Linked DNA regions of Homo sapiens: region 2 is linked to region 1. Evidence: fine-mapped expression QTL. Tissue or cell type: monocytes. Region 1 holds a variant in brackets; the other region holds the start of a gene. All regions are shown on one strand. Distances are from middle to middle.

Region 1 (3,024 bases):
AAAGGCCTTGGAGAGGGGGAAAAATAATAGGGAATGGGAAAGAGGAGCTGAGGGGCTGTTAAGATTAACTTAATTCCAGAGTTTTGGTGCCCCGACAACTTCTTCAATATTTCAGATCTGAGAAGCAACCTAGAGCTGTAGGAAGGGGATTTGGAGGCCCACGGTAAGTAGGACAGGCTCATACAGTGTTTCCAGGAGTCTAGAGTCAATAAAACCCTTCTGGAAACTTACCCTTTGACCCTGCATTTCCATTTCTAGGAATCTAATCTAAGGAAATAACCTCTAATACTGAAGAAGAAAAACCACTACAAAGATGTTTTTCACAAATGTATTCATAATCTGGTCACCCCTCTACTAATTGGTTTGTGGATTAGGGCTAATTATGTCCTGGGGACAGAAAAAAAAAAATGCAGGCTCCACACGGGCCAGGGAAGGCTCAGGTCACCACTTTAATATGGGGGCAGAGAGCAATGCAAATATCAAAACACTGGGGAAAGGTTAACTAAAATATGGAACACAAGATGATTTCTGAAGTCTTTTAAAATTATGTTCATAAACAATATATAGACCAGGCGTGGTGGTTCACACCGGTAATCCCAGCACTTTGGGAGGCCAAGACAGGTGGATCACCTGAGGTCAGCAGTTCAAGACCACCCTGGCCAACATGGTGAAACCCTGTCTCTACTAAAAATACAAAAATTTTTAGCCAGGCGTGGTGGTGTGTGCCTGTAATCCCAGCTACTAGGGAGGCTGAGCCATGAGAATTGCTTGAACCCAGGAGGCAGAGGTTGCAGTAAGCTGAGATCATGCCACTGCACTCCAACCTGGGTGACAGAGTGAGACTCTGTCTGAAAAAAACAATAAAATAAAATAAATAAAAAATGTTTACATCATGATCAGGATACAAATTAGAAATGCAATATTCTCTCAACTATGTAAGAGGAAATATATTAGAAAAAACAAAGCCAAAATTTTAACACTGGCAAGTGGTTTTCTCTGGGTTTTAGAATAATGAGTGATTTTGATTTCTTCTGCTTTTATGTATTTTATAAAAGTCTCTACTATACACATACATTAATATTGGCTGGGCATGGTGGCTCACACCTGTAATCCCAGCACTTTAGGAGGCTGAGAGAGAGGGATCACCTGAGCCCAGGAGTTTGAGACTAGCATGGAAAACATGGGGAAACCCCAACTCTATTTAAAAAAAAAAAAAATTAGCCAGGCATGGTGGTGCACCCAGCTACTACCAAGGCTGAAGTGGAAGGATCACTCAAGCCCGGGAGGTGAAGGCCACAGTGATCTGTGATTTCACCACTGTACTCCAGCCTGGGAAGAGAGGGAGACCCTGTCTCAAAATAAATAAATAAAATTAATATTAATAAAATCTTCCTTTAGATGATAATTAACATTTACAAAGTCCTTTACATAAGCATTTAACTTGTGAGTTGGCTACCACCATCATTCCCATTTAACAGATGGTAAAACTAAGGCAGATAGCAGTTAAGTGACTCTCAAAGTTATATAGCCCATGGGTGGACTGTGATTTGTACCCAGGTATTTTGGTGTGAGAGCCTCTACTTTAAACCACTACACCATACTATCTCTATGATCTTTAGAACAATATGTCTCAACAGCAACAAAACAATGCTTGTGTGATAATGTTAAACGGG[GA/A]AAAAAAAAAAAATAGGCCAGGCACGGTGGCTCACGCCTGTAATCCTAGCACTTTGGGAGGCCAAGGCGGGCGGATCACAAGGTCAGGAGATCGAGACCATCCTGGCCAACATGGTGAAATCCCGTCTCTACTAAAATACAAAAAAAAATTAGCTGGGCATGGTGGTGTACACCTGTAGTCCCAGCTACTGGGGAGGCTGAGGCAGGGGAATCACTTGAACCCGTGAGGCGAAGGTTGCAGTAAGCCAAGATTGCGCCACTGCACTCCAGCCTGGGCAACAGAGTGAGACTCTGTCTCAAAAAGAAAAAAAAAAAAAAGATATACTTTCTACAACTTCCCAGAAAAGGGAAACCATTTTTCATGATACTGATACCTAAATATTAGCAATGGTTTTAATGATTATAATTATTTTCCCTCTTCTTTGTATGTACTTTTCACAAATTTTCTTTAATACACTGTACATTTTAAATTTTAAAAATTACTCAAATAGATTTTTTTTAGATTGAAGAGAAGAAGAAATCACCAAGTAAGATATTGATGTTTCATACGGAAGGAAGAAGATATTTTATGGTGTGTACCCAGTCATCACATCCTGCTTTTCTTTCTAAATGTCCACAGAATGATAGAATCACAGCAAAACTTCTCACTTTCCAGAAAAGAAAAATCATGTTTTTCATGGTCCTGACACTATATCTATCTCCATGGGAAAAGCCCCATAGGAAGCGCCCCATGGGGCAGGGGCAGGAGGAGCAATCTAGGAGGAGGCCTGGCTAAGTTTCTGGTTTCCAGCCACCCTGTCTGAGGTTATTTGGCCTCCAAGTGATACAAGAGTTAAGAAAAATTTACTTAGGCAGATAGTGAGGGTATGGAAGTCCTCGGTAAGGTTTTCCTTTTAATGAAAAGCAGCCCCAAATCATTTTCCTGTCTAACAAAAGCAGCCTGTAAAATCGAGCTGCAGACATAGATGCTGGCAATCATGTTCAAGATGGCGGCTCCATTTTCCCTTTGCTTTGTCAGCCATGTGTACAGTAAGGAGCAGACAAGATGGCCCCAACTAAGGGGAAAGTTCATTTGCATAATAAGATGAGGGTGGGGAGGCCAGCCTTCCTGATGCACTATGTAAACATCATACCTGATCAAACCAATCTGTGAGCCCTATGTAAATCAGACACCGCCTCCACCAACCTGACTATAAAATCTGACATATCCACCACCGGCCACGTCTTTCCACTCAGAAGACCCCTCTCTCTCAATAGAGAGAGTTGTTTTTCTTTCTCTTTTCTCCTGTCTATTAAACCTCCACTCCGAAACTCCTTGTGTGTGTCCATGTCCTAAATTTTCCTGGCGCA
Region 2 (2,762 bases), 21 kb after region 1:
CTAAGACTTTGTCACCAATAGAAATCACAGATATTGGCCGTGCGCAGTGGCTCATGCCTGTAATCCCAGAACTTTGGGAGTCCAAGGTGGGCGTATCACAAGGTCAAGAGATCGAGACCATCCTGGACAATATGGTGAAATCCTGTCTCTACTAAAAATACAAAAATTAGCTGGGTGTGGTGGCACACACCTGTAGTCCCATCTACTCGGGAGGCTGAGGCAGGAGAATCACTTGAACCCAGCAGGCGGAGGTTGCATTGAACCGAGATCGCGCCACTGCACTCCAGCCTGGTGACAGAGTGAGACTCCGTCTCAAAAAAAAAAAAAAAAGAAGAAAGAAATTACAGATATTTTCTTATATTACAAGTATTACCTATATCTTGAAATAATTGTTTATGTTCTTTACTACTTCAAAATTATGGTAACTATTTAATCCACTGCTAGATCTTGTTATTTAATAACCTTGTTATTAAATAACGCATTCGTTTTTTAAAGACATATATATTACCATATCATAAATTCTTTTAATGTTTTGACATGTGTTTTGCAATTGGTTTCCTTTATAATACTCTTCCTTTTGTTTTATACCTTTAAAAAAGCATTGTTCTGGTCCAGCGCGGTGGCTCACTCGTGTAATCCCAGCACTTTGGAAGGCCGAAGTGTGCGGATCATTTGAGGCCAGGAGTTCGAGACCAGCTGGGCAACATGGTGAAACCCGCCTCTACTACAAATACTAAAATTAGCCAGGTGTGCTGCGCCTGTAATCCCAGTTACTCGGCAGGCTGAGGCAGGAGAATCGCTTGAACCCGGGAGGTGGAGGTGGCAGTGAGCCGAGATCGCGCCACTGCACTCCAGCTTGGGCGACAGAGCAAGACTCTGTCTCAAAAAAAAGTATTGTTCTGAGAGTCTTTAGCCTTCCCAGAAATGCCAAAGGGGTGCACAGCACAAAAATGGAACAGAGCCCTGCATTATAGCAATGGGCAGCGCAGGCAAAGCCAGGGGCTCTGTTCAGCGTCTTTGAGCAAAAAGCCAGGTTGGAATTTTGATAAATAAAAGAGACAGATGAAGAGGAAAGGAAATGAGCCCAGATTCCACCAGAAGACCCCTTCTCCCTTTCCACCAATTCCTGTTCAGCAGGTGCCCTAAATCCTCTCCCCTTCAGGTTTCAGCTGCAGCCGACCCCTCGAGCGCCCCCTCTGTCCCACGCGCAGTGTCGGTGGATGACTGTGTCAATCCCTGGCCCCCGGACGCCGAGCACCCACTCCCGCTCCAGGACGGTGCCGAGTGACAGTCAACAGGTGGAAGGCGCCAGAAACGTCCACACACCAAGACCACGGATACTTCGGTTTTTAAGCACCCCTCGCGGGTTGGCCTCTCCGCGGCCCTGAGGCTCTGACACTCTGAGAAGGAAGCAAGAGTCCCAAGACCCGGGTTCCAGACAAGGGCAGCAAGAGCTGCAGGTGTCCGGAGTTGAGGAAGCAAAGTTTGGGGCGCGGCGCACCGGGTCTGCGGAGTCCCAGCTGCGGAAACCGAGTTAAGCTAACAAACAGCCTCAGTGGTGGTCGCTGTCCCCGCCCAGTCTCCCTCCGCTGGCCCAGGGCCAAAGATCGGCCGCGGATGCCTCTTACCCGGGCGTGAGCGGAGCCTTCGGTCACTGCGTTGGCGCAGCAAAAACCTTCGCTCCCTTCTGGGTCTCAAGGCCTGGACTGGGGCCCCGCCCGCCTGCCATCCGGGCGGAGGCTGGAGGCGGGGAAAGCGAGGCTCCCCCCAGGAAAGGTCCCGAAAAGTCCCGCCGTGCCCCGCCCGGCGCCGCAGCCCAGGCACCATGGTCAGTGAACACACCAGGGCGTTGAGCGCTCACGGGGCACAGAACCAGGAACAAGCGTCCATCCGGCCTGGGGTGCTGCCGGCTGGACAGACTCGCCCCTTGCGCGCCCTGAAGGGCGGCCCCGCAGGCTGGGGCGCACAGGCGGAGGACACCGAGGCCACCTGACGCTTCCGCCCCTGGGTGCCAACAGCGTTTTGTAATCAGGGCAGGCAAAAGCGGAGGCGGGGCGCTGTGCAGAGAGGCTCTGGCTGTTCCCACTGGGTCCTCCTATGTGCCCTGGGCTTCTCACCGGGTTCACACAGCTGCCCAGAAACACAGGTATTCCCGCGCTCATTTCACAGAGAAGGTGACCGAGGTTCAGCTTTGGTGTGCGCTGGAGCCCTTCCTTCAAAACGCGCAGGCAGGGGTAAGCTGGCTTCCAGCCACTGGCCTCCACAGTGTCCCATCCCATATTCATGACTGGACATTTTCAGTTGGCGGCTCTTTCCAGGTTGATGTAAAGTCTCAGTGAGTGGTTCTCCACCATATCAGATTCAGTAACCCTTTTTACAATAAATACAGGGTGTCCCAAAAGTCTCATAACCTGAGAAGTGCAAGTGCTAGAAGCTTTCAAAAAAACAAACAAAAATAAACCCTTGAAAGTTTGAGTTTCTTTTACACTTATTTGGTTTTATGAATTTTGAATATATATATATATATATATATATATAGTTGTTGTTGTTGTTTTTTGAAACAGAGTCTCACTGTGTTGCCCAGGCTGGAGCGCAGTGAGTAGAGCAATCTCGGCTCACTGCAACATCTGCCTCATGGGTTCAACCAATTCTGGTGTCTCAGCCTCCTGAGTAGCTGGGACTACAGGTGTGTGCCACCATGCCCGGCTAATTTTTGTATGTTTCAGTAGAGATGAGGTTTCACCATGTTGGCCAAGCTGGTC

What was found.
Region 2: SQOR starts here. The variant in region 1 is fine-mapped to the expression of SQOR in monocytes (Quach 2016, PIP 0.95). The same link has a PIP of 0.9 or more in monocytes after Pam3CSK4.

What each region holds. Positions count from the first base shown.
Region 1 is chr15:45,654,650-45,657,673 of GRCh38, reverse strand. The region is part of intron 1 of SQOR (sulfide quinone oxidoreductase); the gene reads right to left. Among named protein-coding and RNA genes, the nearest start is that of SQOR, 21 kb to the right of the region's middle. The variant GA/A (reference allele first, on the strand shown) is at 1,674.
Region 2 is chr15:45,633,975-45,636,736 of GRCh38, reverse strand. SQOR (sulfide quinone oxidoreductase) reads right to left here and starts at 1,708. Exons shown (of 10, transcript NM_021199.4): 1 at 1,629-1,708. RefSeq lists enhancers at 937-986, 1,017-1,106, 1,569-2,564 and a silencer at 1,587-1,756.